Regions from separate parts of the Homo sapiens genome. Here region 1 is linked to region 2. The links come from fine-mapping of genetic effects on gene expression. A gene starts in region 2. The other region holds a variant in brackets. All regions are shown on one strand. Distances are between the middles of the regions.

Region 1 (9,532 bases), 190 kb after region 2:
GCGTGGGCCTGTGGACTCTTCTCCCTCAGTGGCTATGAAGGGTCTGCCAGCCTGGAAACTTCCCATTCCCACTCGCCTTTCCCATACTCTCTCCTGGGAACAAATTTATCCCACCCTCCCCTCCCCCACCTGGGAACTGGGGCTGCCCTAGCTGACTTCTGTCCATTCACCCCTGGCTTTTGTCATGGAAACTGGGGCCTGGAGAGGAGGCCACAGGGCTTTCCTGAGCTCCAGGATCAGGCTTCCCATCCCATCCCCTCCATCTGGGACTCCCACTGCCAAGGAGTTGGAAGAGCAGAGAAGGAATCCTGTGAGTGCTTCTCCCTTCACTCCCCCACCTCCCCTAGCTGCTGTATCCAGCTCTGAGGACTTTCAGGAAAGGGGTGGCTGGGAGGGATGGGGGCTGGAGGCAGGGGTGGCAGGGATGAGAGCTTCACTCGCTAACCAGCTGATGGCCATACCCCAGCCATCACTCCCTCCTCCTGGCCCATGTTATGTCAGGACCATGGTGGTCTGGTCCCCCTCAGTCTAGCTGCCCTATTTCCCCAGGCTCCCACCTTCTTGAGAACACTGTCCAGTGTTTCTGGTCGGCTAATGTCGAAGCAGATGAGCACAGCATCAGAATCAGGATAGGCCAGAGGCCGGACATTATCATAGTAAGAGGAACCTGAAGGAAGACAGGGCATGAGGGGCCTGAGTGGATGGGAGGCCTGGAAGGGAATGGGAGACCTTACAGATCCTGGTCAAGGGATGCTGGGAGCAGAGAATGGAAAAGAGCAACCATTAATACCCATCATTAATACCCATCATGGAGTCTGGGTTTCCCAAGTGGGGGAGCGGGCAGAAGGGAGGTCACATGGTGGGAAACGGCTCTCTGCTTCCCTAGTGGTTTAAAAAGTAATAATTTTTATTCTTGACTGAGGTTTGGACCCCTTTGAGAAGCTCATAAAATCTATAGACATTCTCATAAAATGTTGCATGTGCTTTCTGGGCTTTGGCAGTCTAAAGCCCTGAAGGGAACTCTTGTAAAAATAAAAACCCTCCTTATGTTGGGAGGAGGAAAAGAGCAGTGGCAGGGAGAGCACTCTCCCATTCTCCTGGGACTTGACCTCAGATTTATCTAGTTCAATGGAGAGAAACAGCCTCCTGACCACCCCTCACTCAAGACATTCTAAATGTCTTTTCTGCTTTTTTATTTTTTGAGATGGAGTCTCGCTCTATCGCTCAGGCTGGAGTGCAGCGGCATGATCTCGGCTCACTGCAGCCTCCGCCTCCCAGGTTCCAGCGATTCTCTTGCCTCAGCCTCCTGGTAGCTGAGATTACAGGCACGTGCCACACGCCCGATTAATTTTTGTATTTTTAGTAGAGACGGAGTTTCAACCATGTTGGCCAGGCTGGTCTCAAACTCCTGACCTCAGGTGATCCCCCCACCCCAGCCTCCCAAAGTGCTAGGATTACAGGCGTGAGCCACCGTGCCTGGCCTCTAAATGTCTTTTCTAAACCCAGTCTTATCTCTGAAGGAACATGTTCCAAATTAAAAGCCATTCCTTCCCAACTTTCCCAGGTAGGCAGGACCCAGCTGAGGGGCTCAGATCCTAGGCTTTCTCCTTCAGGACATGGTTTCTGTCAGGCTCTGCAAGTTCTACCTCAGTTTCCCTGGATTTTAGCAGAATATTGATTTTTCCCTTCCTGTTGGAATTGGATGGATGGGCTGGGCTTACCTGGAACCTAAGGGTCTAACCAAGGGAGGGGACAGAGTGGGCCGCCTTGGAAGTCAGGGTGACCCCCAGGGACTTGGCTACCTGAAGTGTCCCACATGTTGAGCTCAATGCGGCGCTTGTCGATCTCAAAGCTCGCAGTGTAGTTCTCAAACACGGTGGGGACATAACTCTGCAGACACGGATGGATCCAGATGAGATCATCTCTCCAAGTCCTCACCCCAGATAAATGCCCTCCTCACTCCCACACCCCGTCCAGCCCAGCCCCTGGACACAAGTTGGTCTGGGATTGGGCAAAGGGGAGATCCCGGGAGCTCCTGCCCCCCCCCCCCCCCCCCCGGAGAATCTCTGCTAAGCTCCCAGACCTCCTCCTGTTCCCTTCTGGTCCCTTCAGCCCCCTAGTTCTTCCCCTCTCCATTGCCCAGGACCTCCGACATTCCCCTCGCCCTCCCTCCCGGATGCTCTGGTTCTCCCAAACCCCATCTATCTCACCCTGCTCCCTAATTCCTCCCACCCCAATCCTCTGCAGTCCTTCCTGAGCCCTCAAGGCCTCCCCGCGTCCTCCGACCCCCTGTCTCTTGTCCCTGGTTACCCGAGTACCCATTCCCATCCGTCGCCAGGGCCCCTGTCACCCACCCCCCAGCAGCCTTAGCGTCCCCCTCCCAAGACGCAGGTCCCTCACCCCGGGATAGGCGTCCTTGGCGAACACCTGCAGCAGCGCCGTCTTGCCGCACTCTGCGTCTCCCACCACCACGATCTTGCAGCGGCCGCTCTGCCCCTCCATGGTCCCGGCTACGCGCCGGTCCCCCACGCCACCCCTCTCCCGGGCCCCGCCGCCGCCTCCCCCGCCCCTGCAACTGCAGCCGCTCGGGCCGCCAACACCGGCATCTCGCGGGCCCGCGCCGAGCCCCCGCCCCGGGTCCGCGGCCCCCCCTCCGCCCCGCCCCCAGCCAGGCGGCCGCGCCCCCCCGGCCCCTCCTCCCACCCCCGCAGCCGGGGGGCGGGGCCCAGAAGATCTGGGCGGAGCCCTGGGAACAGAGGCCTCAGAGCCGGGGTCCAGCCCGCCGGTGTGGTCTGAGGGGCCCCTGCCGGTTTGGGACAGGCCGAACTGGGCTTATTTGACTTTCTCGGATATAAGGGCAGGTCAGAGTTCAAGCGAAGTTCTTAGGGGTAGAATATGAGCGGCACAAGCGCGAAGCTCGGGCCTGCTGTGTACCCACGCGTGCACGCAGGTGTACCAGTGCGGACAAGAGCTGGGGCAGCCATCCACTTCCTGAACACGGCGGGAGAGAGATGCTAAGGGGAAGGAGGGAGCCTCTTTGGTTTTCTCTCCCGCGTCCGCCTATGTCCTGGCAGGGGGTCTTGGGGAAATGGGAGGGTGAACCCCAGCACACCCACCCGGACGGTGGTGACATCATAGCTTTCCGTCCCCATGGCAACGGGCAGCCGGGTCTCCGGTTACATTGACTTAACCGCCGGCCTAGACTAGCAGAGAAGCGTGGACTGAGTTCCTCCAGCCAAGCACTGGGTGGAAAGTTTTGGGGGAGCTGCGTCCTCTGGTGGATGCTTGGGGACAAGGAGATAAGGAAGAGAAAGAACCAACCGCCAGAGTTGCTCTGCTGGAGCCAGAGCTAAACCCAAAAGTCAGGCTTGATTAAGAGTCTGACAATAGGCCGGGCGCGGTGGCTCACGCCTGTAATACCAGCACTTTGGGAGGCCGAGGCGGGCGGATCAAGAGGTCAGGAGATCGAGACTATCATCCTGGCTAACACGGTGAAACCCGCACGGTGGGCGCCTGTAATCCCAGCTACTCAGGAGGCTGAGGCAGGAGAATGGCGTGAACCCGGGAGGCGGAGCTTGCAGTGAGCCGAGATTGCCTCACTGCACTCCAGCTTGTGCAATAGAGTTTCGAAAAAAAAAAAGTGCTTTTTTATATCGAGGCAATTCGAGTCAATAATATATGCTGCAAATAATTCTGTAAAGATAACTAGAAGCTGGGCGCGGTGGCTCACGCCTGTAAACTCAGCACTTTGGGAGGCCAAGGCTTGCTTGCGTGCAGGAGTTTGAGGCCATCCTGGGCAACATTAGCGAGACCCTCTCTCTAGAAAAAAAAATCAAAACTTAGCTAGGTTTGGCCACTCTAGGCACGCTGCCTATGGGGTAGCCCTGCTCTGCAAAGAGCAGTAAAACATAAAGTTAGCCGGGCGTGGTGACACATGCCTGTGGTCCCAGCTATTCAGGAGGCTGAGGTGGGAGGATTGCTTGAAGCCGGGAGTTTGAGGCTGTAGGGAGCTGTGATCGCCCCACCTCGCTCAGCCTGGGTGACAGAGTGAGACCCTGTATCAAAAAAATAAAAATATAAATATAACTAGAGCACGCAGCATCATCACTATGTTACAGAAGGGAAAATGAGGAACAGAACGTTAACACCAAAGTCAGAAAGTTTTAAAGGCTTGGTCTCCATGCTTCTACTTTGCCACTGCAAGACCACAGTGAATTAAGTCTCATCCCTGCCTGGGTTAGATGTCAGAGCCTGAGACACAATGTAGTTGGACTCCAGTCCACAGGTGGCTGACTCCAAATCTGATATGAGTTAACTCCAAATCTGATGTAAGTTCAAGTTTTGGGACTGTTCCTTAACTTTTTTTTTTTTTTTTTGAGACGGAGTCTCGCTCTGTAGCCCAGGCTGGAGTGCAGTGGCGCGATCTCGACTCACTGCAAGCTCTGCCTCCTGGGTTCATGCCATTCTCCTGCCTCAGCCTCCCAGGTAGCTGGGACTACAGGCGCCTGCCACCACGCCTGGCTAATTTTTTGTATTTTTTAGTAGAGACGGGGTTTCACCGTGTTAGCCAGGTGAATCTCCTGACCTCGTAATCTGCCCGCCTCGGCCTCCCAAAGTGCTGGGATTACAGGCGTGAGACACCGCGCCCGGCCTTTTTTTTTTTCGAGATGGAGTCTCCCTCTGTAGCCCAGGCTGGAGTGCAGCGGCATGATCTTGGCTAACTGCAACCTCCGCCTCCTGGGTTCAAGCAATTCTCCAGCCTCCGCCTCCCTAGTAGCTGGGACTATAGGCACCTGCCACCATGCCTGGCTAATTTTTGTAGTTTTAGTAGAGCTGGGGTTTCACCATACTGGTCAGGCTGGTCTCGAATTCCTGACCTCAGGTGATCCACCCACCCGCCTCGGCCTCCCAAAGTGTTGGGATTACAGGCGTGAGCCACGCCGCCCGGCCCTTTTTTTTTTTTTTTTTAACAGGGTCTCACTCTGTTGCCCAGACTGGAGTGTAGTGGCGCGATCTCGGCTCACCTCCGCCTCCCAGGCTCAAGCGATTCCTCTGCCTCAGCCTCCCAAGTAGCTGAGATTACAGGCGCGCGCCACTACCGCCCGGCTAACTTTTTTATTTTTAGTAAAGACGGGGGTTTCACCATGTTGGCCAGGCTGGTCTTGAACTCCTGACCTCAAATGATCCACCAGCCTCGGCCTCCCAAAGTGCTGGGATTACAGGCGTGAGCCACCGCGCCAGGCCTATCCCTTAAAATAGTTTTTAATTTGAATAAGGTTTACTATGAATAAATAAATCACAGTCGGCTTGATCCCAAGAGCACAGACGTTCCTGGTGCCCCTTTTCGTGCTCTCCCAGCTTGCGCCACTATGGCCCTGGCCCTTTAAGGCTGAGCGCGAGGCCCCGCCTCGCCCGGCGCCCCGCCCCTCCCGCTGGATCCCGCAGCCGCGGCTCTTCCCGACGCGTTCCGCCTTCCCCAGCTGTGCACTCTCCATCCAGCTGTGCGCTCTCGTCGGGAGTCCCAGCCATGTCCGACGAGAGAGAGGTAGCCGAGGCAGCGACCGGGGAAGACGCCTCTTCGCCGCCTCCGAAAACCGAGGCAGCGAGCGACCCCCAGCATCCCGCGGCCTCCGAAGGGGCCGCCGCCGCCGCCGCCTC[G/A]CCGCCACTGCTGCGCTGCCTAGTGCTCACCGGCTTTGGAGGCTACGACAAGGTGAAGCTGCAGAGCCGGCCGGCAGCGCCCCCGGCCCCTGGGCCCGGCCAGCTGACGCTGCGTCTGCGGGCCTGCGGGCTCAACTTCGCAGACCTCATGGCTAGGCAGGGGCTGTACGACCGTCTCCCGCCTCTGCCTGTCACTCCGGGCATGGAGGGCGCGGGTGTTGTGATCGCAGTGGGCGAGGGAGTCAGCGACCGCAAGGTGAGCGGGTTGCGTAGGGCAGGGCAGGGCTGCGCAGGCCACTGGGCAGTGGGGCACGAGTGGGCGAGCGCCGGGGGTGTGGCAGGGCGGGAGAAACTGGCGCGGACCTGGGTGCACGAGCGTGGAAAGCGTAGCCAAGGAACTTGTGTTTGGGGGCTCCTGGAGAGCGGCATTTATGTGGGGAGGGGAGACGAAATTATCGCCCCTTCCCCAACCATTTTTAGTTGTGGCCGCCGCCCAGAAGCTGTGCTGGTGGGGGGGAAAACAATAAGGTGCCCATGCGCATGCGCACAACCACACTACCGTCCCCACCCCCCCCCCCCCCCCCCATTAAAACCACACCTGTACCCCTACCCACCAAACACTCTCTGGGTAATTGTGGTCTGTGACTATGAGTGACGGTTAGTGCCCCCTTTCCCCGAGGGAGCTTGAGGGGCTATGTCGTCGGGGTTGGGCGGGGGCACAGCGGCCGTGCCAGAGTCCTGGTCACATGCAGCCCCGTGGTCTGTGGGGGTGTGAGGCGGCCCCTCCCAAAGCAAGGCCAAAGAGACGAGACACGCCCATCACGGAGGAGAGAGAGCCTTTGCTACCCCACCGCCACCAGCCTTACACCGCCGATCTGATTTTGGGGTGGGGGAGGCGGGATTGGGTCATCCGATCTTTGTCTTGGGCTCTGTGTCTCCCGTGACTGCAGTATCTCCTCCTCCTGTGACTCAGCCCTCAGCCTTCGGGCCACGACCCGGGGCTGCCCTTGGGAATGCCTGGGGCGGGGAGTGGAAGGGGGGACCCACCTCTGCCTTCCTCCTGCAGAGGACCCCCACTTCAGAAACCCCAGTGCCAGGGGTTTGGACTGGAACGGAGAGGTGCGGCGCCTTGAACTGGTTGGCCAAGTCTGCAGGCCTGTTTCTCCTTCTCATTTATCATTAATCTTGGCCACAACCCTGGACACCAGAGAGCTCAAAATGATCAGCTTTTTGAGAGACCTGGGATGAGGCCTCAGCACGCCATTTGTTTAGAGGTTTCTTTTTTTTTTCTTTTTCTTTTTTTTTTTTTTTTTTTTTAGACGGAGTTTCGCTCTTGTTGCCCAGGCTGGAGTGCAATGGCGCGATCTCGGCTCACCGCAACCTCTGCCTCCCGGGTTCAAGCGATTCTCCTGCCTCAGCCTCTCGAGTAGCTGGGATTACAGGCATGCGCCACCATGCCTGGCTAATTTTGTATTTTAGTAGAGATGGGTTTCTCCATGTCGGTCAGTCTGGTCTCGAACTCCCGACCTCAGGTGATCTGCCCACCTCGGCCTCCCTAAGTGCTGGGGTTACAGACATAAGCCACTGCGCTTGGCCAGGAGTTTCCTTTTTAAATCAGACCCCTCAATGAGAGGCCCCACAGATGCAGCCTCTTGCAGACCTGCCAGCCCAATTCTGGAGCCAGGTTTGTTGGATTCATCCTGTATGCAAACAGCTTCTCCTTAAGGCTTTCCTCTGAATTCAGCTCTGGCCCCACCCTCAAACTGACTTCTAAATGATCCCACTCTTGAGCAGGCGTCTAAGAGGAATATTTTCGGGAGGTAGTTGTAGTTCATGTTACTGCTGAAGGCCACCCACCTCACCTCCCCTCCATACACTTTCCGCCTGGTAAATACAGGATATCCTGTCCAGGGCAAGAATCTGATGTAAGAGCCTGGATTCTGCGGGGAGGGCCCTTCCCTCTCTCTCCCTCCTCCTCCTTCCTGGTGTCTGGGTTGGGGAGGGGTCATGGCCCTGATTTGGATGGCCTGAGGGTTAGCATGAGCCAGGGTAAGTGAGACTTGTTCTGGGTCAAATCTGGGACTGGCCATGACCCTAAATGACCAATGCACTCCTCGCAGCTCTCCTGGGTTGTTCTGTATCTGCTAGTCCTGAGTCCCTGGGTGGAGGGCTTCCGTTCTTGTTCTCCAGACCTCATCTCAGGCCAGAACTTGGAAGGAAAGACCCCAGCATGCCCTCAGTTCTCGTATTCAGTGGAGTGTGGGGGCTTGAGGACATGAAAAAGGGCGTAAGTGGCAGTCCCATCCCCCTTCCCCATGGACCCTAACTCTTGTTAATATACAGAATTCCCATCATTCCTGGCAGGGATCAAGACAGACCCAGATTGTCCCAGAACAGCACCCACACCTCCCTCTTCATGCTCTTCAGAGAGCGCAGAGAAGTCTTTTCTCCTGACGCTCCCTCCTTTTCCCTGCCCTTCCCTTGACCCCACTTGCTAAGCTGGAGAGAAAGGTTCTGTTATCTTTGTCCCCTTTCCCTCCTGCACAGAGGCTCTCGTGGGGGTGGGGGGGAAGCCTTTTACTGCTGCGTAGGCCTCTGTAGCCCTTCTTGTCTGTTGCCCCTCCTGCACCATCTCTGAGTGAAGATGTTTTCTGGGCTCCCAGTGCTGGCTCAAACACACTTCTCCCGAGGTGACCACACCCTGCTGTAAGCGCTCAGAGAACTTTGCCTGCACTTTGGTATGGCCCTGACCACACAGTGCCGTCTTCTTTTGGTTGTGTGACTTCCTTGCTGCTATTATATTATTATTATTATTATTGTTAGCTAACATTATTAAGTGCTTATTATGTGCCAGACATTGTGCTAAAATTTTTTTTTTCCATTTGGAAAAACTGCCCTAATTGACAGATAAGAAAACTGGAGCTGGAAAAGTGGAGCTCAAAAAGATTAAGTAATTTTTATGCATCCGAAGTCACACAGTCAGTAAACAGTTGAGACCGCTTTTGTAACCACAGCAGTTTGATCTTTTCCACAATACTTCATGCTGCCCTAACTGTAAGCTTCTTGCATTCAGGGATCTTACACAATAGTGACATGTAAGATCTGTAAGAAGATGATAAGGATAGTATCTGCCTCAAAGAACTGATGTAAGGGTTAATTAAGCATTATATATAAAGCACTTGAAATCGGGCTCGGCCCTCAGTCAGCACTCAGTAAAGGTGAGTTGTTATTGTTGTTGATGATGATGTTATTATTATTATTATTACCATGACTATTGCTGCTTCTCCTGCTACTTCATTTGGAAGAAGGTAGCCTTGTACCTAGGGGGAAATCAGTAAATAGCCTGTGGGTGAATGAATGAGTGACTGAATGATACTCTTCTGTTCTTCAAGGCAGGAGACCGGGTGATGGTGTTGAACCGGTCAGGGATGTGGCAGGAAGAGGTGACTGTGCCCTCGGTCCAGACCTTCCTGATTCCTGAGGCCATGACCTTTGAGGAAGCTGCTGCCTTGCTCGTCAATTACATTACAGCCTACATGGTCCTCTTTGACTTCGGCAACCTACAGCCTGGCCACAGCGTCTTGGTACACATGGCTGCAGGTGACAGGTCCCCTCACTTTATCACCCCTTACCCCACCCAGATTTCCTTCCAGGCCCCTTCCCTGCAGCCTGTCTGGGTTGTTGTCATGGCAACACCAGGCTGCCTTGGCCTGTGGCTCCCAGAGGCCTCTGCTGTGTAGTTGCCGTGGTAACATTCAGGCACCAGGTCTAGTCTGGTGTGCTATCCTTAGCAACGTGCCCTCACCCCACACCCCCACCTCTCTAGCTACCTTCCCCACCACTTCTCAGTCATGGAAATTAGACACGGCCCTAA
Region 2 (17,040 bases):
CCCCTCGTTCCCCCAGCCAGCTAGTTACCAAGTTCTGTCACCACTTCTCCCTCTCCATGCATCCTACTTCAAAATTAGCTTTCCCTGCTCACCTGTGTTCATCGTTCTGTCTGAATGATAAAGAGACAGCCATCTTTTTTTTTTTTTTTTTTTGAGACAGAGTCTCGCCCTTGTTGCCCAGGCTGGAGTGCAGTGGTGCGATCTTGGCTCACTGCAACCTCTGCCTCCCAGGTTCAAGTGATTCTCCTGCCTCAGCCTCCTGAGTAGGTGGGATTACAGGTGTGCGCCATTACGCCCAGCTCTTTTTTTTTTTTTAAACGGGGTCTTGCTAATGTTGCTGCTCATGTTAAACTTGAATTCCTGGGCTCTAGAGATCCTCTCACCTCAGCTTCCTGAGTAGCTGGGACTACAGGTATATACCACTGCACCCAGCTGTAAGACCAAGCCACCTTTAATGAACAAATATCCTTCCTGTTCTGCTAAAGTACAGAAACTATTTCTACTAGGAGCCAGTGGGAACCTAGGGGTTATCTGGAGCTTAGCTCCAGCTAAGTGACAGGAAAGGGAGGGTCTAGACCAGTCCCTGCTGATGTGCTGCTCCACATTGTCAAAGCCCAAGGAGAGATGAGGCCTCTGGGACCAGAGAGGGCCCTGGTGCTAAGGTGGTGGTGGAACAGAACCCAGCAGCCTTCAGCTGGATACTGATAGCTTCATCTCCTGAAGGCTTTCAGATGACAGCAGCTGGACCCACCGTTTTACCTACCTGTGTCCACTCACATGGGCTCAGGATGTGGACTTAGAGGCTCTCCTTTAATAAATATCTTATACAATGATTCTGTCTTTGGCTCTGTTTTTCCTGTGCAGGCCCGCAGAGTGCCAGGTGCCTCTCTCCCCTCCTCTACTATTTTGGCTCCTGCTATGAAAAGAATAGTAAAACTACTTTATAGAGAGGAGACGCTTTAGCTGGAGAACAACTCTGTCTTCCTAGGAACCAGGGACAGTCAATAACCAGAAAGGACAGAGGGCTAAAGGGCCTTGGCTAATCTTACTATCAGATGGGTGGCAGACAAGTTACCAGAGAGAAGCAGACTATCACTTTTTCACATGGTCAAAGCAGATAGGCACAGAAAAGCATCTATGATCCCCTGAAAGTCCTTGGAGATGGCACTGGATATCCCCAAATTTTCTTATCAGAGGGTAGAAAACTTGAAAAGAGTCTTTTTTTGAGACAAAGTTTTGCTCTTTTGCCCAGGCTGGAGTGCAGTTGCACGATCTTGGCTCACTGCAACCTCTGCCTTCCGGTTTCAAGTGATTCTGCTGCCTCAGCCTCCCGAGTAGCTGGGATTACAGGCGCATGCCACCACACCCAGCTAATTTTTGTATTTTTAGTAGAGACAAGGTTTCACCATGTTGACCAGGCTGGTCACGAACTCCTGCCCTCAAGTGATCCACCCACTTCGGCCTCCCAAAGTACTGGGATTACAGGTGTAAGCCACTGCGCCCAGCCGGCAGGTCCATGTTTTAAAAGCCAGATAAAACTACAGCTCTCTCCACATTCAGACGGGACAGCCAGCCCTGATGGAGCTGGGGTGAAATGCCCCCTTCAGACTGACCAGGTGCTCAGTACAGAAAGGCCAGGTGCCACTCCAGGGAATCTAAGGTGCCTCAAGAAAATGCCAGGTCAGATTTTCCTCAAGAAAGACCAGCCAGGCACAGGCTCACATCTGTAATCCAAGTGCTTTGGGAGGCCAAGAAGGGAGGATCGCTTGAGCCCAGGAGTTCAAAACCAACCTGGACCAACAGTGAGACTCTGTCTCTACCAAAAAAAAAACAAAAAACTAACCAAGGGCAGAATCTGATGGCAGCCCCTGAAAGAATCTGGGGGAAACTGGAGGATATGAGTGTGTGTGTATGAAGTTAACTTCAAAGCAAGCTTCCTGTGCTGAGGGGGTGGGAGGTAAGGGTGTGATGAGGCAGGGCTTCTCCTTTGGCAAAGCCTCTGTAGTCCTTCCTTAGTCACCAGGGAGTTGTGGGAGATATAGACCAGGGTTGCAGGTGCCTGGAGTACAGGGACAGCAGACAGGTCATGGTGGGTGAGGGGTCAGCTGGTGGGGCACAGATGCGTTTCCTCGGCAGTCCACATATTCATAGCTCTGAAAGACCAGCTGCTCTGAATGGCTCAGGTATGAACAGGTCAGGGTGCCCCTGGAGAGGAAGCAGGCCTTGTTGCCATGGCTGGGAGGAAAAGGAAAGCTCTGGCCCCATTATACTGTCTGGGGGTGGGGAGCGGGGAGCTCCCTCATTTGCCCTTCCCTCTGGCTCCCCACTCTGCCAAGGTACCTGGGACAGCTGCCCCACCTGTTTTCCAGCAGCTTCCAGACAGCCCTATGCCTGTTGCCCCTAATAACTTATAGGCAAGGTGAGACTCAGAAAAGGGGCTAGACTTGCTATTCCCAAGAGCCAACAAAGATTCATGGGGTCAGCTTGGAAGACTCTCTGCCCATGAGGTGTAGCTGAGTGAGAATGAAGTCAGAAGTGAGAGCAGGGATACCAGAGCTCCAAGCTCTACTTACTGGATGTGCAAAAGCACATGGTGGACTTTGATTTCCAGCCAGGTACAGATTTTGCTGAGAGAGAAGAAAAGAGAACGTGGGACCACGTGTCACATGGAGCAGCCTGTCAGCTCAGAAGATGCCTGCAGGTCCCAGTTTCCTTACCCCACAGAACTCTTTCCTTCCATCAGGTGCCCCCAAAATGTCACTCCCACCCCTTCCCACCCTTCAGGTGAGTGTAGCAGCATGGCTGCACTATCACTCTGACCTCCACTCACTTGGCCCAGGCACATGCTGGACCCCCATTCAGGAGACAGACAAAACATTCTTCTTCCTCAGCAATGCAGGCTGAAGAGCCCAAGGTCACATATTGTAAAGATTAACCAAATTCCAGCCTGTTTTTCATTCTAATCAAGGTCCAAACAAGCAGAGGCTGGGGACCCTGAACCCTTGCTTATTACATTCTCGGCCATGGGAGGGCAGGCCAGATGCTGGCTGAAGAATTTGCTAAGCAATCAGGAAAGCTGGTGGGTATTAATTGGGTCCCTAAGCCAGGCAAGTGGCTAGGGGAGAAGAGATCAAGGGGTACTCACTATGTGTTTTCATCCCGTATCTTGGTAGCTACTGCGTAAAACATCTGTCAACCAAATGGGCACAGGGTTAGCCCCAACTCCAGCTGCCCCTTTCCCACTACCACACATCCACACACCAGTGGGCAGGGCTGGCCAGGGAGAGGGGAGTCACCTGTTCACTGGCCAAAGGGCCAATGTGTAGGAGAAGGTTGTTGGAAACCTGCCCCACCACGAGGGACAGGTGCAGAACCTCGAGGGTCAGCTGTGTCACCATAATGGGGTAGTAGTTGCCATTGGAGATGTTTAAGATATTCTGGGGATGAAGACAAGGGAAGGGAGGAGTGAAGATGGCCCATCCTTAGGAAAAGCCAAACAGTTGCAAAAGCCTGGCTGTCTGGCCTGAGCCCCATCTACCATGACAAGCTTCAGGTGCAGAGGATGAAAACTGGGAGCCCCTTGGAGGGGCATTGAATGGTGAGGGGTCAACTTTACGAAGTTAAGCTGCCTCAGGATCCAGGTCCATCCTGTACAGCTTCTTTCCATTCAGTCCTGTCCATCCAGAGAGTCTCAGGCACTGTCACCCCACTCCACCCCTGTGGTTTACTTATCTGGCCCGGATTCTGACCCCTTACTGTGTAGAGTCCCAATCCTTACCATCTGTCATGGAGCTCATGGTTGCTCCTACTTCTCTTCAGGCTCCCAACACCCTCTGGGTGCCATAAGATCTCTGGCTTCCCATGCCCAGGGTCATAACACTGGACAAAGGTTACAGCGAAGTATTGCTAGGAAGGGGGGTTTGGAGCCAAGGGCACCCACCCACCGTTATGTTGAGGTAGATATCAGCCTCATCAAAGGCCACTGTGGAGGAGTTGAGGCCTGCAGGCTGCACAATGACGGACCGGGGAAACAGGAAAAAGACGATGAAGGAGGAGGTCACCAGGCAGATGAGCACGGCCAGGAACACAAAGAGCTTCCTGTGGGAAAGCAGGACCCAGGATGGAGGAATGGAAAAGTCTGAACACCAAGGAAACTCGGAGAGGGGGTTCAGACACTCCTCTCCATATACAAAGCTTTCCCCTGCACACTACCCCAACAACATTTAGCTCCCCAGATGTGGCCCGGAATGAGTAGGAGCACAGGATTGGCAGGCAGGCAGCCTGGTTTCCACTCCCAGATCTCTGTTCCCATTGACCCAATAACATGGAGCAGCCCACTTAGCCTCCTTAAGTCTCAGTTTCCTTGTTGGTAAAAGGCAGATAATTGTACTGACCTCACAGAATTTGTTATCGGCTAATATATGAAAAAATACTAATCACAGGTCCCTGCACATGGCAAAAGCACAATGAATGCTAGTTATTATCACTAGAAGAAATAAGTCCATATTTGGAAGTTCTGAATTTTAACATTCAGAACAGGACACCATCCATCCAATTCAAAATTCAGATATGCATTAAAGAGATAGTACTTTGTTAGTATCTTATGATGTGCACTGCTAATTTCTTTTTTTTTTCTTTTTTTTGAGATGGAGTCTTGCTGTGTCGCCCAAGCTGGAGTGCAGTGGCACGATCTCGGCTCACTGCAACCTCCACCTCCCGGGTTCACGCCATTCTCCTGCCTCAGCCTCCTGAGTAGCTGGGATTACAGGTGCCTGCCACTATGCCCGGCTAATTTTTGTATTTTTAGTAGAGGCGGTTTTGCCATGTTGGTCAGGCTGGTCTCAAACTCCTGACCTCGTGATCTGCCCGCCTTGGCCTCCCAAAGTGCTGGGATTACAGGGTTTTTTTTTGTTTTTTTTTTTTTTTCAGATGAGGCCTCGCTCTGTTGCTCAGGCTGGAGTGCAGTGGCATGATCTTGGCTCACTGAAGCCTCCACCTCCTGGGTTCAAACAATTCTCCTGCCTCAGCCTCCCAAGTAGCTAGGATTACTGGTGTCTGCCACCACGCCCAGATAATTTTTCTATTTTTAGTAGAGACAGGGTTTCGCCATGTTGGCCAGGCTGGTCTTGAACTCCTAACCTCAGGTGATCCGCCTGTCTTGGCCTCCCCAAAGTGCTGGGATTACAGGCATAAACCACCACGCCCAGCCTGATTTCTAATTCTGGTATAGTGGGGTGGCGGAGAGGGTTCGGCTTGGTGGTGACTCCCAGGTTGACACCAGGACCTTGGGAGGAGGTTGAGGGAGCTCCATGTCAGATGGACTCAGATCACAAACACAGTAGGCCCCAGGTCTGCCTGAGGTTCTGAAGTATCCCAGAACAGCGGACAATAGGTTTTTCATCTCTACTAGAAGAAAAACAAGCAAATCTGAACTGCCTCAGCAAGGGAGGTGCTTAAGAAAAATAACATTTTCAAATCAATTGCAGCCAGGGCCACATGCTTGTTCCCTCCTTCCTGGGAGGACTTGCAGAGCTACCAGATCCTTCCTGTCTTGGAGAGGGGGCCATGCTTTCTGGAAGCAGTGATGCTTAAGGAAGCCCACCAGGTGGCCTCAAGTGACATCTGCTGTGCCCACAGCTGCTGCTTTTTTCTTTCTTTCTTTCTTTTCTTTTTTTTTTTCTTTTTTTTTTTTTTTTTGATAGAGATGGGGTTTCACCATGTTGCCCAGGCTGGTCTTGAACTCCTGAGCTCAAGTAATCTGCCTGCCTTGGCCTCCCAAAGTGCTGGGATTACAGGCATGAGCCACCACACCCGGTCCAGGAGCTTCTAAATCAGGAAAAAATCCTTGGACGTAAGGAGCTGGTACCTCTGAGGCTCAGGCTTTCTATGGAAGAACTAATAGGAAGAAATTAAGGGAGATCAAAACAGGGGAGACAAAGGGAGCAGCCCCCAGGGGCAATGGCTTGTGAAGCTAGGGGAGGAAGGGGGGCTTACGTGTGCTTGGGCTTCAGCCTCTGGTCCCCATAGGGAATGAGAGCCACCAACTGCTTCTCCAGCTCTAGAGAGAGAGAAGGTGAGAGGGAGGGCCAAGATGCAACTGTGACAAATATTTACTGTGCCAGCTTCCCAGAAGCACGCCTCCACCCACACCATAGAGCAATGTTAGAAACATGCCACATCTGCCCCAGAGCAGGACTGGAAGCACTGGACTCTGCTACCAAAGTTGGCAGCTCAGCTTTGCCATCTCTAGAATGGAAGTGAGATTTCCACTAATAGGTATGAAGAATCTCTGAAAGTCACCAGCAAATCAGAGATGCCCAGCATCTTTGGAAAGTTCATTTGTAACTTCCTGAACTGAATGAATCCTAGGACACACAGTGTTGCTCAGAAGCACAGTGGCTAGAATCCTTCTTTCCCACAAGGGGCTGGAGAATACAACCAGGGAAGGAGGGCAGGTTTTTGCAGGGAACCCAAGGATAGTTAAGTATCTCCCTGGCCAGCCTGAGACTGGGAGGTCAAGAGCTGGGAGCAGATCTAACCCCATCCAAGGAGACTCAGAGGGGCTGCCCCAGGCCAACAGGCTAAGAACTTTCCCTGGATTCCAGGCTATTTCCAGAGCCTTGGGCCACTCACCTTGGGGAATCTTGCCACTGCCCTGGCAGGTGGGACAAGTCACGAAGCTGGCATCAGCAGTTCCTTCACAAGGCACACAGGAACAAAAAGACTTGCTGCTACCGGTGCTGGAGTAGTTGACAGCCTTGCTGCCAATGGCTGGTTTGGAGGACAGGATTGACTTGTTCTCATCCTCCCGCCAAGAGCCCAGCTGGGAAAACGTCTTACCCATTCTTCAGGGGCGGGGGTTTCACTAATGAGAAAAGACCAAAGTTCAGTGCTAAGCTTGTTAGCACTGACGCCAGATGTAATTTTGGTTTGAAGTTCTCAAGACTGGCAAGGAGCTTCACCACAGTTTAAGCAAGCTCAAGCCTAAGGAAGATAGGATGTGAAAAACTGGGTGGTCACATGGGACTCTCAGAAGTCTCAATGCATTTCGACTCCTTTCATTATTTTAAAAGAGACCAATCTGCCTACAAAAGGGAAAACAAAAGAAAAGCAGAAGTTACTTCACTTTAAGGAACTTCCATAAGTGATTGTCAGAGCATTTAATTTTTCTCTGGAAAAGTTGCTGAGCTGTCATTCAGTTTAAGGGAAGGAAGTTGGATAGGGCAGAAAAGAGATTCTTTGAATCAAGGAGAGAGGAGGCCAGACTGGTCACAGGTGTGGTTAAGACCCCTATCTAAAGAAGCCCTGGGAGAAAGCAGACACCTCACTGCTTTCTGAGGCGGGGTAAGAAAGCCTGAGGAGGGTCATAGTGATACCAGGGTCTGTCTTTCACTAGGAAAACTCAAGGCTAAATCTGGACTCTGTGTGACAGAACGAGGCCGGCAAGTGAGCCACACAGATCTTTCTGGGCTAAAATATAGGGATGCTCACCTTGTTCAGGTCTGGGATCCCAGGCTCCTCAGCCGCACGAGGGCGAGACTTCTGGAGTGCGTCTTTGGGGAGAAGGGCCTCTAAGGGCAGAGTGGGCTGGGCTGGGCTGAGCTGAGCTGGGCGGTGGTGGGGAGAAGCACCGCCTGGGGCCGGCAACCGGCCGGAGTCCTAGGGGAACGAATGTGCCGCACTGGAGAGTGGGGATAGTAAGGACGCTGACCTCCCCGAAGGGCCAAGCCGATTCCTGGGCTACATGGGGGCTCTGCCATGGGCCGACCGGGTGGAAGCGGACGGAGAAGGTGTGACTTCATTAAGGGAGGATTTCAAGTCCCACCACACACCCCTAGAGGCCGTTAGTCAAGCTTGGTACCCGTGCGGGGGGCGCCTGTGTGTTGGGCGAGGAGGCGGCAACAGGAGGTGTCTTGACCTCCGAAAGGTAAAGTAGGTATAAAGGGTCTAGGGAGGGCCTTACCCGCGGACGACTGCAGCGACAGAAACGGAAGAGAGTGGAATCGAAAATGCGGGAGCGAACACTCCCCTCAAGCTTTGACTCAGTGCCCAGGGAAGTCCCGCCCCAGCCCCTAAGGGCCCACCCCCCCGTCCCCCGGTCCGCCCCTTCGCCACGCAGCAGCCTGAGACGCTGCCAGCTCTTCAAACGTTACCCGAGGGCCCGGACGCTGCTTCCGCAAGGACTAGCCAGTCCGGGTAGGAATTTCCAAGAACATTTATTTCACCATTCTTTAGGTGGTTATGTACAAGTACATACATAACCAGGAGAGCAACCCGGGCCCTCCTGGCCCTCGATTATAAAACTCCGATGGTCAAGACAGGTCCCACCCATCAACCCAATTACACCCTGCCGCTCCACCTTCTACCCGGAAGCCCCGATTAAAACGTTTTAAATAATGAACGGCCTGGCTGGCTTGCAGTTTGAATCCTGGTTTATTTAAGTAGCATTCAGGAGTTATACTGTAAATAAACATCATTATGGCTAATGACTAATTAAAATCACCATTCATTACAAATACCAACCAGGTTAGATAATACTATTAACTATCTTTTCCCCTTCGGTCTGGGGTTCATATTCTTCCTTTTCTGGAAGTCATTTTCATGGATAAAATATTTAGCATTTTTTGTTACCTCTTCCTTCACCAACTGTACTCAACACACTTCTGTAAACAGAGTGAGAACCTGGGTTCATGGACAAGCTCTTTTCCACTTATCTTCGGGTTAAACCAAAACTTTTTCAGCAACTTTGCCCCTGTCCAAGTTTTGCAGAACACCAGCTGCCTCTTCCTGTTCTAGGCATTCTAGGGCTAGATACCTGTGAACGGACTTCAAGCATTAAAGAAGTCATCAGCATTTCCTATACCTCACACACACTCATTTGCCCACCCTGAACTTCACTGACATTAATTTAGGAGCCTGCCTTTTGCCTTTCACATGTTTCTATTTCCCCCACTGTACTGTAAAATAAGATCTGCCCTGACATTAAGAAAAAAGGCAACTGTTAAATTTACTTTTCCCTTTAAATAACGGGATTTTTTCCTTTTCTATAAGATTAGCAAAATATTTCACAATACCTATATTTTTTCCCTTAAATAAAAATGTATGCAAAATTACTATAATAGACATTGCTCAATAGGTGCTGGTAGGTTTATCAGCACACTCTTCCTCCTTTCATTGAAATGCGGAGATTCCCTTGAAGTTGGATACTCTTGAATGCACCATGGAGTCTTTAGAAAGCAACGGTGCCAATTATTAAGTATTGCAGGAAAATTACTTTCTCCTTGAGAGAGGAAGAGTAACAACATTTCTATCATGCTCTGGGTGTTATTTCAATGCCAAATAACTATGAAGCTTGAGGTGGATTACAGAAATTATGAGAATAAGAATTATGAGAATAATTCTTAAAAACAACTTCCGAGGTTAATGTCTTTCAAAACCTGAAAATTAACAGATATCCCCATAAAAAATCCACATTAGCCAAAGAAAAATACTCAGTTTCAATAAAAGCAGAAAGAAAAATGGTTCTATATGAAGTTGAAGTTACACTTGTCAATGCACTAAAATAGTTTTATCCAAATCAACTGAAAAACTGTCTTCATACTATTCATCCAATGTCTAAAGTGAAAATTTAAGTTCTGGTCTTTAGTTTGCTCCCCAAAATACTGTAGCAGGTATTGTCTTGGTAACTCAACGATGGGCTCTATACAGATTCATCAGATTAAAAATAAGCAAGGGCTTCTATCCCATACCCCAATGACAGAATAAAGATCATCTCTGAGCAGCAGGCAGTTATTTAATACAAGGTCACTCCTCAATAGCGTTGGCTGTACCAGTCGTTGTTGTTTAACTGAAGAAGTTCTGTCACAACCTGCAGGATATTGTAATTGTGTTTCTTCAGCAGCCGTAGGTTCAGCTGCCTGTCACAGAATCCCATTTCAAAGAGATGGGCCATCAGGGCTGCTGTCTGATCTTCAGAAATTATTGGCTGTGTAGAGACAAGCAAAGCAAAAAAAAAAAAAAAAATTCTGTATAATTTAAATGTTTATTTTATACATTTGTATCATCTTGCAAGCATACTAGTCTTTCCAGATTTATTCAAAGTACTAGGTAATTAGATTCAAGGCTATGGCACTCCTGTGTACTTGATACCAACGGTTCGGACTGGGAAGGCCCTATTTTAGATTAGTTATCTGTGTACTTGAAGGAGGAGAAAAGGGAAACCGGGGAGCTAATGAACTGTACTTAGAACCAGGAGAATGCTTCACTCGGGGCTTTCAGGAAGAAGCATTTTTTGGCCAGATGAAGGAATGACAGCAAGCCCCAGAGACCCTGTGAACATAAGTGTAATTGTGATGATGGGGGAAGTATGAGCAAGATAAAAGTGTTACTGAAAGATGCTATGGGAAATTTTGTCAGATATGCAGAGGAGCTGGACAAAAAAAACAGCTTGGGAAATTACAACCTGGGAAGGCTTCTTGATTTTTTCTCCTCCAAAAGAATAGGTAAGAGGGGCTGGGTGCGGTGGCTCACACCTGTAATCCCAGCACTTTGGGAGGCTGAGGCGGGCGGATCATGAGGTCAGGAGATTGAGACCATCCTGGCTAACACAGTGAAACCCCATCTCTACTAAAAATACAAAAAATTAGCCAGGCGTGGTGGCAGGCGCCTGTAGTCCCAGCTACTCGGGAGGCTGAGGCAGGACAACGGCGTGAACCCAGGAGGTGGAGCTTGCAGTGAGCCGAGATCGCGCCATTGCACTCCAGCCTGGGTGACAGAGCGAGACTCCATCTCAAAAAAAAAAAAACAAGAATAGGTAAGAGGAAGTTAACATTCATTCATTCAAGCCCTGTGGTGGAAGCATTACCTTCCTAAATCCTTAAACGCTTGTTTTGTTGTTGTTGTTGTTTTGTTTGTTTTTTGAGACAGGGTGTCACTCTGTTCCCCAGGCTGGTGTGCAGTGGTGTGAACACAGCTCATTGCAGCCTCAACCTCCTGGGCTCAAGTGATCCTCCTGCCTCAGCCTTCCAAATAGCTGGGACCACTGGTCTGCGCTACCACGCCCGGCAAATTTTTAAATTTTTTACTAGAGATGAGGTTTCCCTATGTTGCCCAGGCTGGTCTTGAACTTCTGGGCCCAAGTGATCCTTGAACTTTGGTCTCCCAAAATGCTGGGATTATAGATGTGAGCCACCTCGCCTGGCCTCTGGTTCTGTTATTATCCCAATTTCACAGACTGGGGATACTGAAACTGTGCAGCAGAAAGATTATTAACTTGGGAGGCAGATAGGCTTAGACTCAAACCCTAATCTTCCATTTACTTACCAACTGTGCTATCAATTCCTTTATGAACTGAAGATATATCATACCTCCTACTTTGCAGGGTTGTTGAAAAAGTATGTAAAGATGAGAACAGTATGCAAACATGTTAAGCATTTCCCTCCAAACCTGATTCCACTGTTCCATTCTACCTTCTTATTTCAGAATAGATTATCCATCCTCCTTTGCAGGTTAATGGAATGTACCTTGCATTGTATCTTATTACCTCTCACCACTTCAGAAATCTTTCTCCATCTCCAATCTGTCTTCTCATCTTTATCATTAACCTCTTTCACTGCTGGCTTGCCCATCTCTAAAGTCTCACCCAACTTTAAAAATGCTTCCTCTTGTCTTATGTATCCTAGCTTCTGCCTGTTGTAGCCTGTCTATTTGAAAGTGTGGCATACTTCTACTCTCAAATTCCTCACCACCAGTTCATATCTCTCTGTAGCATCTAACACCGTTGACCATGTCCCCCTTATTAAAACACCCTTCCTTAAGTTCCAGCATAGAACTCTCTCTCTTCATTTTCCTCCTAGTTCCCAGCTTTCTTTCAGAGTATTCCTTTCCCTGATCCTTAAAGGTTGCTTCTTGCTTTCCCCATTATTCCTGGATCATCTCATTCCATCAGATGGCTTCTGCTATAATCTGTAGGCAAGTGACTCTCAAGCATGTATCACCAGGCCAAATCCCTCCCCTGTGATCTGGATGGATACCGTTGGCTTGCCATTATCTGTGGGTTCCTCATCTATGGATCAGTCACCAAAGGACTGAAAATATTTGGGGAGAAAAAAAGGAACACGTACAAACTTTTTTGTCATTATTCCCGAATACCGTATAACAACTATTCAGATAGCATTTACATTGTATTGGGTATTGTAAGTAATGTAGAGATGAAGTATATGAGATGGGCTGGGTGCAGCGGCTCAAGTTTCTCATCCCAGCAATTTGGGAGGCTGAAGTGGGAGGATTGTTTTGAGGCCAGGAGTTAGTTGCCCTAGGCAACACAGTGAAACCCCATCTCTTCAAAAAGATTTTTAAAAAACTAGCTAGGCATGGTGGTGCCCACCTGTAGTCCCTGCTACTCAAGAGGCTGAGGTGAGAGGATTGCTTGAATCCAAGAGTTCTAGGCTGCAGTGAGCTACAATCTAGTTATTGCACTCCAGCCTGGATGACAGAGCAAGACCCTGTATCTAAAAAACTAAAACTAAACAAGCAAGCAAGAAGATGTGCCTAGGTTATATATAAATACTACACTATTTTATATAAGGGACTTAAGCATCTATGGATTTCAGTATCCCACAGGGGGTCCTGGAGCCAACCGTCATAGATACTGAGGGACAACTATATATCCAGCTGCACTCTGGATATCTTTACCTTTACCTGGATATGCCACAAACTCAACACTGTCCAGCAAAACTGACCTAGTTCTCTTCTTCTGCTCTTAATGAATGGTACTAAGCCAGAAACTTGGGATTTATCCTTGACTTTTTCCCCTCCACCCCAAGATAGTGTCTGGCTTTGTTGCCCAGGCTGGAGTGCAGTGGCATGACCTCAGCTCACTGCAGCCTCTGCCTCTGGGGCTCAAGCTATTCTCCCACCTAAGCCCCCCAAGTAGCTGGGACTACAGGTGTGCGCCACCAAGTCCGGCTAATTTCTTTGTATTTTTTGTAGAGATAAGGTTTCACTATGTTGCCCAGGCTGGTCTCAAACTCCTGAACTCAAGTGATCTGCCCACCTTGGCCTCCCAAAGTGCTGAAATTACAGATGTGAGCCACCGTGCCCAGCCTATCCTTCTTTTTAGCCACTTAATCATCATCTCAAAGTTATGCCATTTCCATCTCTTAATTATCTTTTCTACCCTTCCTTTCCACCAATACATGGATTCTCTTAGGGATTTCCTTTTTTTTTTTTTGAGACGGAGTCTCGCTCTGTCACCCAGGCTGGAGTGCAGTGGCATGATTTCAGCTCACTGCAACCTCTGCTTCCCAGGTTCAAGCAATTCTTCTGCCTCAGACTCCCGAGTAGCTAGGACTACAGGCACGTGCCACCACGCCCGGCAATTTTTGTATTTTTAGTAGAGATGTGGTTTCACCATATTGGCCAGGCTGGTCTTGAACTCCTGACCTCGTGATCTGCCCGCCTCGGCCTCCCAAAGTGCTGGGATTACAGGCATGAGCCACCACGCCCAACTGGATTTCTTTACTGGCTCTACCAGCCTCTACAATGTAGCCGGTAATCTTACTAAAAACAGATCTCATCATGTCAATCACTTCCTTAAAACCCTTCAATTGCTCCTCCTATTAATTAGCCTTAAAATAAAATCCAAACCTCATAACACAGCATCCTGCCTACATATTTGGTCTGTTTTTCTTTTTCTTTTTTTTTTTTTTTGAGACAGAGTCTCGCTCTGTCACCCAGGCTGAAGTGCAGTGGCGCAATCTCGGCTCACTGCAACATCCGCCTCCCAGGTTAAAGCGATTCTCCTGCCTCGGCCTCCTGAGTAGCTGGGATTACAGGCACGTCACCACGCCTAGCTAATTTTTGTATTTTTAGTAGAGATGGGGTTTCACCATGTGGGTCAGGCTGGTCTCGAACTCCTGACCTCATGATCCACCCGCCTCAGCCTCCCAAAGTGTTGAGATTACAGGCGTGAGCCACCACACCCAGCCTTTTTTTTTTTTTTTTTTTTGAGACATGGTCTCACTCTGTCACCCACATTGGAGTTCAGTGGTGTGATCTCAGCTCACTGCAACCTCTGCCTCCCGGGCTGAAGTGATCTTCCCACCTCGGCCTCTTGAGTATCTGGGACCACAGGCGTATACCACCATGCCCAGCTAATTTTTTATGTTTTTAGTAGAGACAGGGTTTTGCCCTGTTGCCCAAACTGGTCTTGAACTCCTGGACGCAAATAATCGACCAGCCTTGGCCTCCCAACCTGTTGGGATTACAGGTGTGAGCCACCAAGCCCAGCCAGTCTTTTTTCGTCTTACTCCTCTTCTTAGACCGGATTCACACTCCATGCTCACATTTCCAAGTCTTTTTTACTGGCTACACTGTCTACAATACCCTTTCCCTCCCTCTTTCCTGATGAACATTTACTCCGTCCTTTAGGACTCAGTTCAGGCATCATCTACCAGAAAGCCTTACTTGGGCACACCAGGCTGAAGTGTTTCATCTGTCTGATAGCACTGGCATAGTATCTTTCTTTTTTTTGAGATGGAGTCTCACTCTGTTGCCCAGGCTGGAGTGCAGTAGCACAATCTCAGCTCACTGCAACCTCCACCTCCCAGGTTCAAGTGATTCTCCTGCCTCAGCCTCCCAAGTAGCTGGGATTACAGGCACACATCACCATGCCTGGCTAATTTTTGTATTTTTAGTAGAGACGGGGTTTCATCATGTTGGCCAGGATGGTCTCGAACTCCTGACCTCACGATCCGCCCGCCTCAGCCTTCCAAAGTGCTGGGATTACAGGCATGAGCCACCACACCCGGCCAGCATAGTATCTTACTATGTACTTTAAGTATCCATGCACCTCACTTGTTTCCCATAGTTTCTGGGCAAGACTCAGTGTCTTTTTTGTTGTTGTTTTTTGAGACAGGGTCTCGCTCAGTCACCCAAGCTGGAGTGCAGTGGCTCCATTGTGGCTCACTACGGCAGCCTCAACCTCCGGTGCTCAAGTGATCCTCCCACCTTAGTTTCCCAAGTAACTGGGACTGTAGGTGCATGCCATCATACTTTTTTTTTTTTTTTTTTAAGATGGAGTCTTGTTCTGTCGCCAGGCTGGAGTGCTGTGGTGCCATCTCGGCTCACTGCAAGCTCTGACTCCCTGGATCAAGCAATTCTCCTGCCTCAGCCTCCCGAGTAGCTGGGACTACAGGTGCCTGCCACCACGCCCAGCTAATTTTTGTATTTTTAGTAGAGACAGGGTTTCACCATGTTGGCCAGGATGGTCTCGATCTCCTGACCTTGTGATCCGGCCTGCCTCGGCCTCCCAAAGTGCTGGGATTACAGGTGTGAGCCACTGTACCGGCCATACTTATCTAATTTTTAAATTTTTTTGTAGAGATGGGGGTCTCACTATGTTGCCCAGGCTGGTCTCAAACTCCTGGGCTCAAGCAATCCTCCCACCTTGGCCTCCCAAAGTACTAGGATTACAGGTAAGAGCCACCATACCCGGCCAAGAACTGGTGTTTTATTCATGCCATAGTGCCAACACCTGGAATAGCTTCTCTCTATAGAAAATATTAATAGATCATCAATAATACATTCTTCTCTTTTCTTCCCTTAAGTAACTTGGCTAAAGTCATATAGTTAGAAAGTGGCAGAGTTGGCCAGGTGCGGTGGCTCACACCTGTAATCCCAGCACTTTGGGAGGCTGAAGCGGGAAGATCATGAAGTCACGAGATTGAGACCATCCTGGCTAACACGGTGAAACATCGTCTCTACTAAAAAATACAAAAAATTAGCCGGGTGTAGTGGCAGGCGCCTGTAGTCCCAGCTACTCGGGAGGCTGAGTCAGGAGAATGGTGTGAACCCAGGAGGTGGAGCTTGCAGTGAGCCGAGATCGCGCCACTGCACCCCAGCCTGGGCAACAGAGCGAGACTTCGTCTCAAAAAAAAAAAAAAAAAGTGGCAGAGTTGTGTTGTGTGTTAACTAAAGACTAAATCTAAAGCCTATGCCCTTTCCACAATGCCATGTTACTCTTCAACCCAGACAGATGCCATCACTTTCACTGGTGACATGGAGTTGAGATTCAGGAAAATAAAACACACACACTGACCTGTGCAGTGACTGGTGGCCCAGCAAACAGGGCCTTGTATGCAGAGGCAGCAACAGACAAAGCCCCCTTCACCAGTCCTCCAGCAATGCTGCTCCCATGATGGTGCCTGCAGAGGAAAACCAAATTATCTCCCCAAACAAACACAAATCATTACCTTTTTACAAGATAATCTGGGCTCTAATCCTTGGAATAAGATTTCCTTAAGAGAAAAAATTAGATGGAAAAAGAGAACACAATTGCTTTCATTATCAGCTTTATAGCTACAGATCATGGTTTGATGGAGGGCCCAGCTCTACTGGTGCAAGCAAGATAGGGGCACTGCAGGAAACACACCACTCTGGTAACCATGATGGCTCTCACTCCTAGCTGAAAATTAATGTGATCGAGGACACACAAGGATATCAACAGTTTGTCTGCTCAATTATTCTCTCAGAGAAAACACCTTGCAAAGGAAATGTGATTTTCTGGACACTGGCCTAATATGAGTGGAAGCAGAGAACCAGGTATGTCCAAGAAAAAATTATTTAAATGTATACTGGGCTTAACCTTTCTACCTTTTCCCCAGTGCTAAGAGTGAGGTAATTTGTGGACACTATTTCCTTGTCTGAAACATAAAACACTCTTTTTTTTTTTTGATGTTGTTTCACTTGTCAGCCAGGCTGGAGTGCAATGGTGCAATCTCAGCTCACTGCAACCTCCGCCTCCTGGGTTCAAGCAATTCTCCCACCTCAGCCTCCTGAGTAGCTGGGATTACAGGTGCCCGCCACCATGCCTGGCTAATTTTTGTATTTTTAGTAGACATGGGGTTTCGCTATGTTGGCCAGGCTGATCTTGAACTCCTGACCTCATGATCCACCCGCCTCGGCCTCCCAAACAGAACACTCTTAAACATCAGCTTTAGCCGTTTGTTCAGTGTTGCTCAAAGCCTTTAGAAGAAACAA

What was found.
Region 1: its variant is fine-mapped to the expression of TMEM106A in blood mononuclear cells (TOPMed, PIP above 0.99).

The regions. Positions count from the first base shown.
Region 1 is chr17:43,018,318-43,027,849 of GRCh38, reverse strand. It overlaps VAT1 (vesicle amine transport 1), which reads left to right and starts at 5,465. Exons shown (of 6, transcript NM_006373.4): 1 at 5,465-5,914; 2 at 9,051-9,258. The coding sequence starts at 5,528. RND2 (Rho family GTPase 2) reads right to left here and starts at 2,619. Exons shown (of 5, transcript NM_005440.5): 1 at 2,401-2,619; 2 at 1,803-1,890; 3 at 558-667. The coding sequence starts at 2,502. RefSeq lists a silencer at 2,656-2,795. The variant G/A (reference allele first, on the strand shown) is at 5,659.
Region 2 is chr17:43,202,846-43,219,885 of GRCh38, reverse strand. It overlaps TMEM106A (transmembrane protein 106A), which reads right to left and starts at 8,011. Exons shown (of 9, transcript NM_145041.4): 1 at 7,964-8,011; 2 at 7,492-7,659; 3 at 6,634-6,865; 4 at 5,995-6,058; 5 at 3,945-4,098; 6 at 3,297-3,437; 7 at 3,146-3,189; 8 at 2,574-2,627; 9 at 1-2,205. The coding sequence starts at 6,844. The coding sequence ends at 2,085. NBR1 (NBR1 autophagy cargo receptor) reads right to left here. Exons shown (of 21, transcript NM_005899.5): 20 at 16,100-16,205; 21 at 8,198-9,985. The coding sequence ends at 9,812. RefSeq lists an enhancer at 2,822-3,116.